2 linked regions of the Homo sapiens genome follow. The protein of the gene in region 2 interacts with the protein of the main gene of each other region in a pairwise test. Each region holds a gene or a part of one and is shown on either strand. Other genes may lie near its edges.

Region 1 (3,826 bases), on a different chromosome or scaffold from region 2:
TCTAGTCTTTTATAAAAGAGATAAAACAGATAAGTATATGAAAGTAATAAGCATTCTAAGCTAAAAGAGGCAAGGAATGATGAAGTGGAAAGATAAAGTAGGGGGAGGGTGGTCTAGAACCAGGAAAGAGCTTTGAAGATAGATAAAATGTAGTCAGGTACAAAGGGGAAGAAATGCATTCCACGCAGAGAAAAGAATGTGAATGTGATGGAGATGGAAATGGGAGAAACGAGTAACAACAGCATCAACAACTACTACTTCTACCAACAGTGACTGCTCTCAACACGCCAGGCACCAAGTGCTTTATATACTTGGTCTCACTGTATCCTTCCAACAACCCAATGCAGTAGGCACTATAATTATCCTGGTTTTCTGCCCCACCCCGCCCCCTCCCCACCCCTCCCAGAATAGGAAAGGTTTAGGGACATTAAATAATTTGCTCATGGGCACAAAGTAAGTACGTGAACTGGGATTTAGATGATTCTGGAATTCATGTTCTCAGCCATTCTGCTATAGGGCATTGCTAGTGGTTTGGTTTGGCTCAAAGCGATGTTTGTGACAAGTGGGGAGAAATAAGGTCAGAAAGGGAGGTGGACACAAATTGATAGTATACAATTCTAGGCTAAGAATTATGGAAAATTAGACAATGGGGAACCACTGAAGAACAAGATTCTCATATGATGAAGGTTATACTTAAAGAAGATTAATCTATTAATGGGTTGTAAAGAGATCAAAAGTAAGGGAGGGAGAAATAATATTTTTCTGAGTACCTTCTCACTAAGCACCCATTGTCTCATTTACCCTTCAGAATGGCATACTTCATGAGGTAGAAATGACTAACTTCTCTGTGACTGAACTGGAATGACTAACTTTTCTGTGCCTAAACTTTCTCATCTGTCAATTAAGATTAAATTATTTTCTATAAGTCAGACAGCCAGAAGGGCCATCTTCACAATTAGCACTTAGGTCTATCTGACTGCAGAGCCCATGCTCTTTCTACAGTTCTACATTAGGAAGTTTGTGGGAGAGTCACTGCAAAAGACTGACTGAAATCAGGGCCTGAATCAGAATAGTCACAGTAGAAATGGGAATCTGAGTGCTTGGGAGTTCATTAAAGAATAAAGCTAAAATTAAAAAAAAAAAAGAAATGGGGAAAAAGAAGTAAGATGTCATGGAGGTTAAAATTATTAGACTTGGCAACTAATTAGATGTGGCAAACAAAAGGGGGAAAAAAATTCAAAGAAATGTTGAGGTTTTACCTCTAGGTGATCGGAAAGATGAGAGTACTGAGCAACAGATCCACAGGAAGAAACTTAAGTTTGATAAAAAATGGGGACATTTTAACATCATATTTGAGGTGATGGTGGGCCGTGTTTAACAAGCAACTGAAGAATGGAATAGCTGGGAGAAGCAGACGAGGTCTGCAACTGAAGGGAAAGGTTTAAATGAGCGTCAAAGAAAGAAGCAGGCCAAGGGAAATCCTTGGTAAACACTGTCAGTAAGGGATGGAAGAAGAGTCAGGGAAGGCAGATGCAGGAGAATCAAGTGAAACCTAGGAAGGAGAGACCATCAAGAAGAAAGATATGGCTAACAGTGCCTATAGATAGGCCAAAAAAAATCTGACCTTAAAGTAAAAAGTATTAGACTTATTGAACAGGAGATGCTAGGATTCTCCTTAAAATTTTTTTTTTTTTTTCCAGAAAAGTGGTTGAGGGCTTTTTAGATCTCACAAATAAGTGAGAACATGCAATGTTTGTCTTTCTGTGCCTGGCTTATTTTACTTAATGATCTCCAGTTCCCTCCATGCTGTTGCGAATGACTGGATCTCATCTTTTTCATGGATGAACAGTACTCCATTGTGTATATGAACCACATTTTCCTTATCAAATTCAGATTGCAAGAGGTTGAACAACTGGCGATGTTAAGAGGTGGAAGCATTAAGTGAATACTACTGAAGTTAAAGGAGAGAAAAACAGGATGAAAGCTTAACAGAGATAATAGGATTGAGAAAATAATTCTTTTTTCTCTTACAGTGTTGGAGGGAGGGAGGAAGACTTGAATACATACATAGGTGGAATGAAATAATTCAGTGAAGATGAAATAGAAGAATCAAGAAAAAGGAAAAATAATTGATGAAGCAAAGTCCCAGAATAGTCCTTATGACGATTCAAAGAGATGGTACCATTCGAAATCTCAAAGATGCCCACAATGCCTAGGGAAACAGACTGTGGAAGATAAGAGAGAAATTTCAAGTCAGTTCCATCTAAATGAGCCTAATTTATTACTGAAGTGTGACTGAATGAGACTAACAGTCTGGCACAAAAACACACTATTCTTTTCATCAGTGAGGCCCTTCTTTATCATCACCACCTGTAAAAATCATGCATATCCTTCAAGGCTCCAAGACCTGAGTCTTCCTTCTTACCTCTTTTGGAGCATGTATCACATTCTACTTTGTGTTTTACTTATTGGATTGTATTTCCCTTTCTCATTCTGAGTACAGTTAATGTGTTTACTGTATTTCTAAAAAATGCCTCCACAAAATTTAGCATAATACTTTAGAGAAAAAAAATGATAAATACCTGTTGGATTATGAAGGGGATGTGTGTGTGTGTGTGTGTGTGTGTGTGTGTGTGTGTGTGTAAGAAAGAGAGATTAGTAAATCTATTTGGCTTGTGGGCACCAGCCAAAACAGAGCAGCATTTTCAGGCAACTGACAAATTTTCTAGAAAATGATAAAATAGATGAAAAATATACAAGTGTCAAAGAAACTGACAGAAGTGTTTCTATCAGTTTAAACCCTAAATTTAGGGTTTTGTGAAGTTTTTTTTTTAAAGCACAACATAAAAGTAAAAAGACTAACAACACTAAATGTCGGTGAAGATGTTGAGTAATCAAAATGCTCACAAATTGCTTGTTGGGAAAGTAAAATCTTACAACTACTTCAGAAAACTGGCAGTTTCTTAAACAGGCAACCTTTTGACCTATCAATTCCACTCCTAATATTTACTCAAGGGAAATGAAAATATATGTCAACAAAAGGATGAATGTTCATCGTAGCTTTATGTGCAATAACAAAAACTGAAACAAGTTTACGTCCATCAGCAAGAGAATAAATAAACAAATTGTGGTACATTCATACAATGGAATACCGCTCAGGAATAAAAAGGAACAAATTACTGAGACAGGCAACATGTATGTATGACATCATGCTGTGCAAAAGAAGCTGAACACAATAGTCACACAATGTAGTCTTCTTTTATATAAAGTTCTGGAACAAAACAAAGTTCAAGTGGAAAAAAATAAAAACAGTCGTTGTCTAGAGGATGGTGGAAATTGACTGAAAAGGGACACAAAGAAACTTTTCGGGGGAGATGGAAATGTCCTATATTGTGATAAGGGTGTTTAGTAATCATGTCTTTTTATTCTGTATTTTTGATGCTTTGACCTCTTGGGCCTTGCTGACCATGGAAGAACTGCCTCTCCCAGGGATAGCTAATTCCTAGTGATGGCAAACAACTTGTCTGAGTCCACCTTTCATACGCATTCCAATCAATCCAGACTCACACTACCAACCAACTCCTCTACAAGGCTCTCACAGCCAGGGCCATTATTTCCCTATCCCAATCATCCCAGGGCCACATGTCAGACAACCAGAGATAGAACCTATGCCCCAGAGTCCATTGAAATTATTCAAACTAGCCAATCTTAAAACCTCCTTACCCTGCCTCACCCATTCCTTACCACCAAAACCACAATAAAAGTTCTTGCATGCAATGGCAGCAAAAGCCAAAATTGACAAATGGGATCTAATTAAACTAAAGAG
Region 2 (3,826 bases):
AAAACACATATTTCTTCAAAGGATGGCATCTGGCAGTACTTGTCTTGATGTCTGTAGCTGAGAATGGTGAAAGTAATCCCAGTTATCGCAACCAAGGAGCTGATAACATTCATGCCCGTGACACCTTGACCCTGAAAGATAGTTTAAAAATGATAAAATAAATAAGATCGAAACCAAAGCAAAAATATCTTGTAAGAAATTTTTAGTGCTTTTATCTTTCCAGATACTTCTCAGGGAAGAGTTGTTCCATCAGGTCAGTATGATTGGAAGGCTTAATAAACTAAATTCTAACTCATTAAAGTCAGAAGACAAACCAAGTTTTAGAATGGGCTAAGGATGCTCTATGGCTAATGCTAAAGAAAATGTTCATTTTATCCCATTTTATCTCATTTTATCACCACCATCTTTCATAATCTGGAAGCAGTACAATGTGTTAGCAAATATCTTTGCTTGGAAATGAAACCTCATTTCAAGTCCAAGTTTCACTAGGACCTTAGGCAAGTAACCTAATCTCCTGGAATCTCAATTTCTGCCTTTAAAAATGTGAATGTGTCACCTAACTTTTAGGGTAGTATCCATTTATTCATTTATTTCATAAATATTTAATGTGCACCAGATACATGTGAGTACTGCATTAGGCCCTGGAGAAACAAAAATGAACAAAAGAGGTGACATCCTGCAATCATGTGGTTTACAGTCATTCCCTGGGAGAATTCAAGCAATAATCAACAGAATCGTTAACATTTAAAGATGTTAACCTATTTGGACTGGAGTTTAAAGGTGTTTTTTCTTGAACTCATTGTTGCAATAAAAATATTTCACACTGCCCCACCCAATTCCCTTTATTCATTCTTATTTTTTTGGAGGGGGGTGTGGGTGGGTGGGGTAGGTATATCCGAGTTCCTTTACAGGAAGGGGGTCATCTGATTTCTTCCTTCTTACCCACTCCCAGGACTGATATCACTCTTTTAAAGGAAAAACAAAGAAAAGCTTCACATTTCCATTCATCAGGTATTTGCTGTACCTTTATTGATTGTGTTATGACTACCGTGGTGGAAAATACAATGATGCCTTTACACAGCCAGTCCTTTCTGGAAGTTTGTGGCTTGGTGTGGCAAACCTCAGAAGTGTACTTGTGACTTAATGTTTACCTCAATCCCAGGTTTTTATTGCAAATAGGCACTTTGGCAGAAAATGCACAGGAACATATAGATAGGCCATCTCTCTCTTGGTCTTTAGTCCCCTTGTTTTCTCAAGGCTCTATTTTGGCTCCCATAGGACATTTTATAGACTAAGATCTCTAGATAATCAATCCCTCATGTGTATTGGGCTTTACAAAGAACATGCCCAGCCTAGTCTCTTCTGATTCTCATTATACTTTTGTGCTGTAGGAAGGACACTTGTTGTTATCCACATTTTACAGATAAATGGAATTAAGGAAGTAAGTGACTGTGAGCAATCACTTTCACGGTTTGTGGAAGGGCTGTGATGAAAAGCCAGGTCTTCTGATGCCTGGTTCAGCATCCTGCCTCCATCATTCCTGCACACCTCCATCTGCATAGCTCTCAGTGAGTCAGGAGTAGGTTTTCCTTACCCATAGTTTATTTCTCAGCTCTGGAAGGAAGTCAATACAGGGAGAACAGCATTTGGGGCTTCATCTGCATTGTCTGCATGTATTTCCATAAGCAGGGATGGAAACATTTATCTGCCCTCCCCTCAGAATGTCTCTATGCCTTGTAACTATCCCTAGAGGAAACTGGCAGAGGACCATAAGAACAGAGTTCAACTGACTTTCAGAGAGGCCCACATCCCCAGGACCTTAAACAAGATCAGAGTGGTTAGAAAGGAGTATGAACATTTAAGCATCATCTTGCCTTTTATCAGTAATGTCTCATTAAACTCTCAAAATAACCCTTAGAAGTAGGCACTTTTCCCTTCAGGTTAACACAGAAGTGAGTGATAGCCTTGGTTCAATCCTAGAACAATCCAGCATTGATGCCCAAACTCTTTCTTCCAGACCTTGGGCAGGATCTAAAGAAAAGCCTCGGTTGGTATTGGAGATAGGGCTAGGATTGGGAGGAAGAATTAGTGAGAGCTTAGGATTGGTTTTGGTTAGAGCAAGGTTTCTCAACCTTGGTACTATAAACATTTTTTGTTGGATAATTTTTGTGTTGGGGGGAGGCTGCCTTGTGCATTTTAGATGCTTAGAAATGTCCCTGGCCTCTACTCACTTGTTGCCAATAACACCAGTTGTAATGACCAAAAATGTCTTCAGATGTTGTCCAATATTTCTGGGTCCTGGGGGGTGCAGGGCAGGGAATTACCCCTAATTACAAACAATGAATTACAGGGATGCAGAATGGTTTCCAATAAACAACTCTTTTAGTTTACTTGACCAGGGAAATGGGAACAAGTGTAAGAATGTCTGTCAGGCAAACAGTGGCACTGGCAAATAGGAATGATCTGAACTGCAACTTTGATGCATACAGATTTTCCTGAAAGGTAACTTTATTACTAAAGGCTTCATACATAAAGATGATATAAAACAAATAGAAGATTTTAAATTTTATGTAGTTTAAGTGGCTTACCAGAAGTTTTGATTTCTTATCGGTTACTGTGAGGTATCCTGTAAGAATAAACTGTTAAGAAGACAAGAGACAAAAGTTAACAGGTGATGTGTTTGACCACCTTGCAGTATAATTTCCCTTGGATTTGCAAAATATCTGTTTGTGAATCTCCAAGACCATCCCGTTTTTCCACCTGAGCATCAGGGAGTAGGGAAGGTAGGCGTAGGTAGGGTAGGAAGAAACTTTGTGCTGGATTTGCTCAGCACTGAACAAGCGCTCTCTGCCAGGGCCAACTGGGACAGGCAGGCTCCTCTAAGATCCAGAGGACCAGATGTTTGATCCGGCTGGGGCTCCAAAAAGAGATTCCTGAGCTCTGGGCCTTGAAGAGAAGAGGAGGAGCTGTGCCTGTTCTGAGCAGGTGAAGGGAGACTTTCTCAAGGAAGACCCCTCTAAAGGCTGATATGGGGACTGATATCTAGTGTAGTTATCAGAGTCCCTCATTTCCCATGATCGTAGAGCCTAGTACCACCTCAGGAAAATGAGAACTCTGTCACTCCATGTGGAGTCCCTTACTTTTTTAATGTTCTGGGGATGGGAACCTTCTCTGTGGGAACTGGCCTTGGACCTTGGGGACATCTGGGTCTTAGAGTCCAAGGATCTGCAGCTGACTTGCAGAGATCAGAAAGTTACCTTTGATACCTCCCTCCGCTTCACTCCCCACATTGGATTGCCAAGTCCTGTCACTTCTACCTCCGAGTCACTCTCAAGGCTCTCCATCTCTAGCTCCATTGCCACCAAGCTAGTTCGGGAAACTCTTTCCTCATCTGTGTGTTTGTAGCCTCCTCTCATTGGATTCTCCTAGGTTTACTGTTATAATTGAATTAATTTCTCACTCTAAAAACACAATGATACTTCAACAAGTCTTCAAGTGTCACTATCCTCTTTAAAAACGTTCAGTGGCTTTCCCATGCTTTCACATTGAAGTTCCATTTTCTTAACATGACTATAGGGGTTGGCACGACCTGGTTACACCCTACCTTTATAGCCTCATTTTATGCCATCACGATAGATTCATTGGTCTTCTTTTGGTTACTCTTTCCCACATCAAGCCCTTGGCTCATGCTTTATCTTTGCCAGGGATGCTTTCCTTCCACTTCGCCTAGTGAGCAGCTACGCAGAAAGCACTTGCCTGACCTCCATGGTCAGGTGAGTCCTCTATTAAACCCTCACATCGCACCTGGAACTCTCCTCTTAGAGCA

What was found.
Region 1: the proteins of MS4A14 (region 2) and SEC22A interact in binary tests that used the Homo sapiens proteins (3 or more experiments, as listed by UniProt).

What each region holds. Positions count from the first base shown.
Region 1 is NC_000003.12:123,239,820-123,243,645, reverse strand, and holds part of SEC22A (vesicle-trafficking protein SEC22a), read right to left. Parts: intron 1-3,826. UniProt on the Homo sapiens protein: May be involved in vesicle transport between the ER and the Golgi complex.
Region 2 is NC_000011.10:60,399,217-60,403,042, reverse strand, and holds part of MS4A14 (membrane-spanning 4-domains subfamily A member 14), read right to left. Parts: intron 2,640-3,826; coding exon 2,589-2,639; intron 132-2,588; coding exon 1-131. UniProt on the Homo sapiens protein: May be involved in signal transduction as a component of a multimeric receptor complex.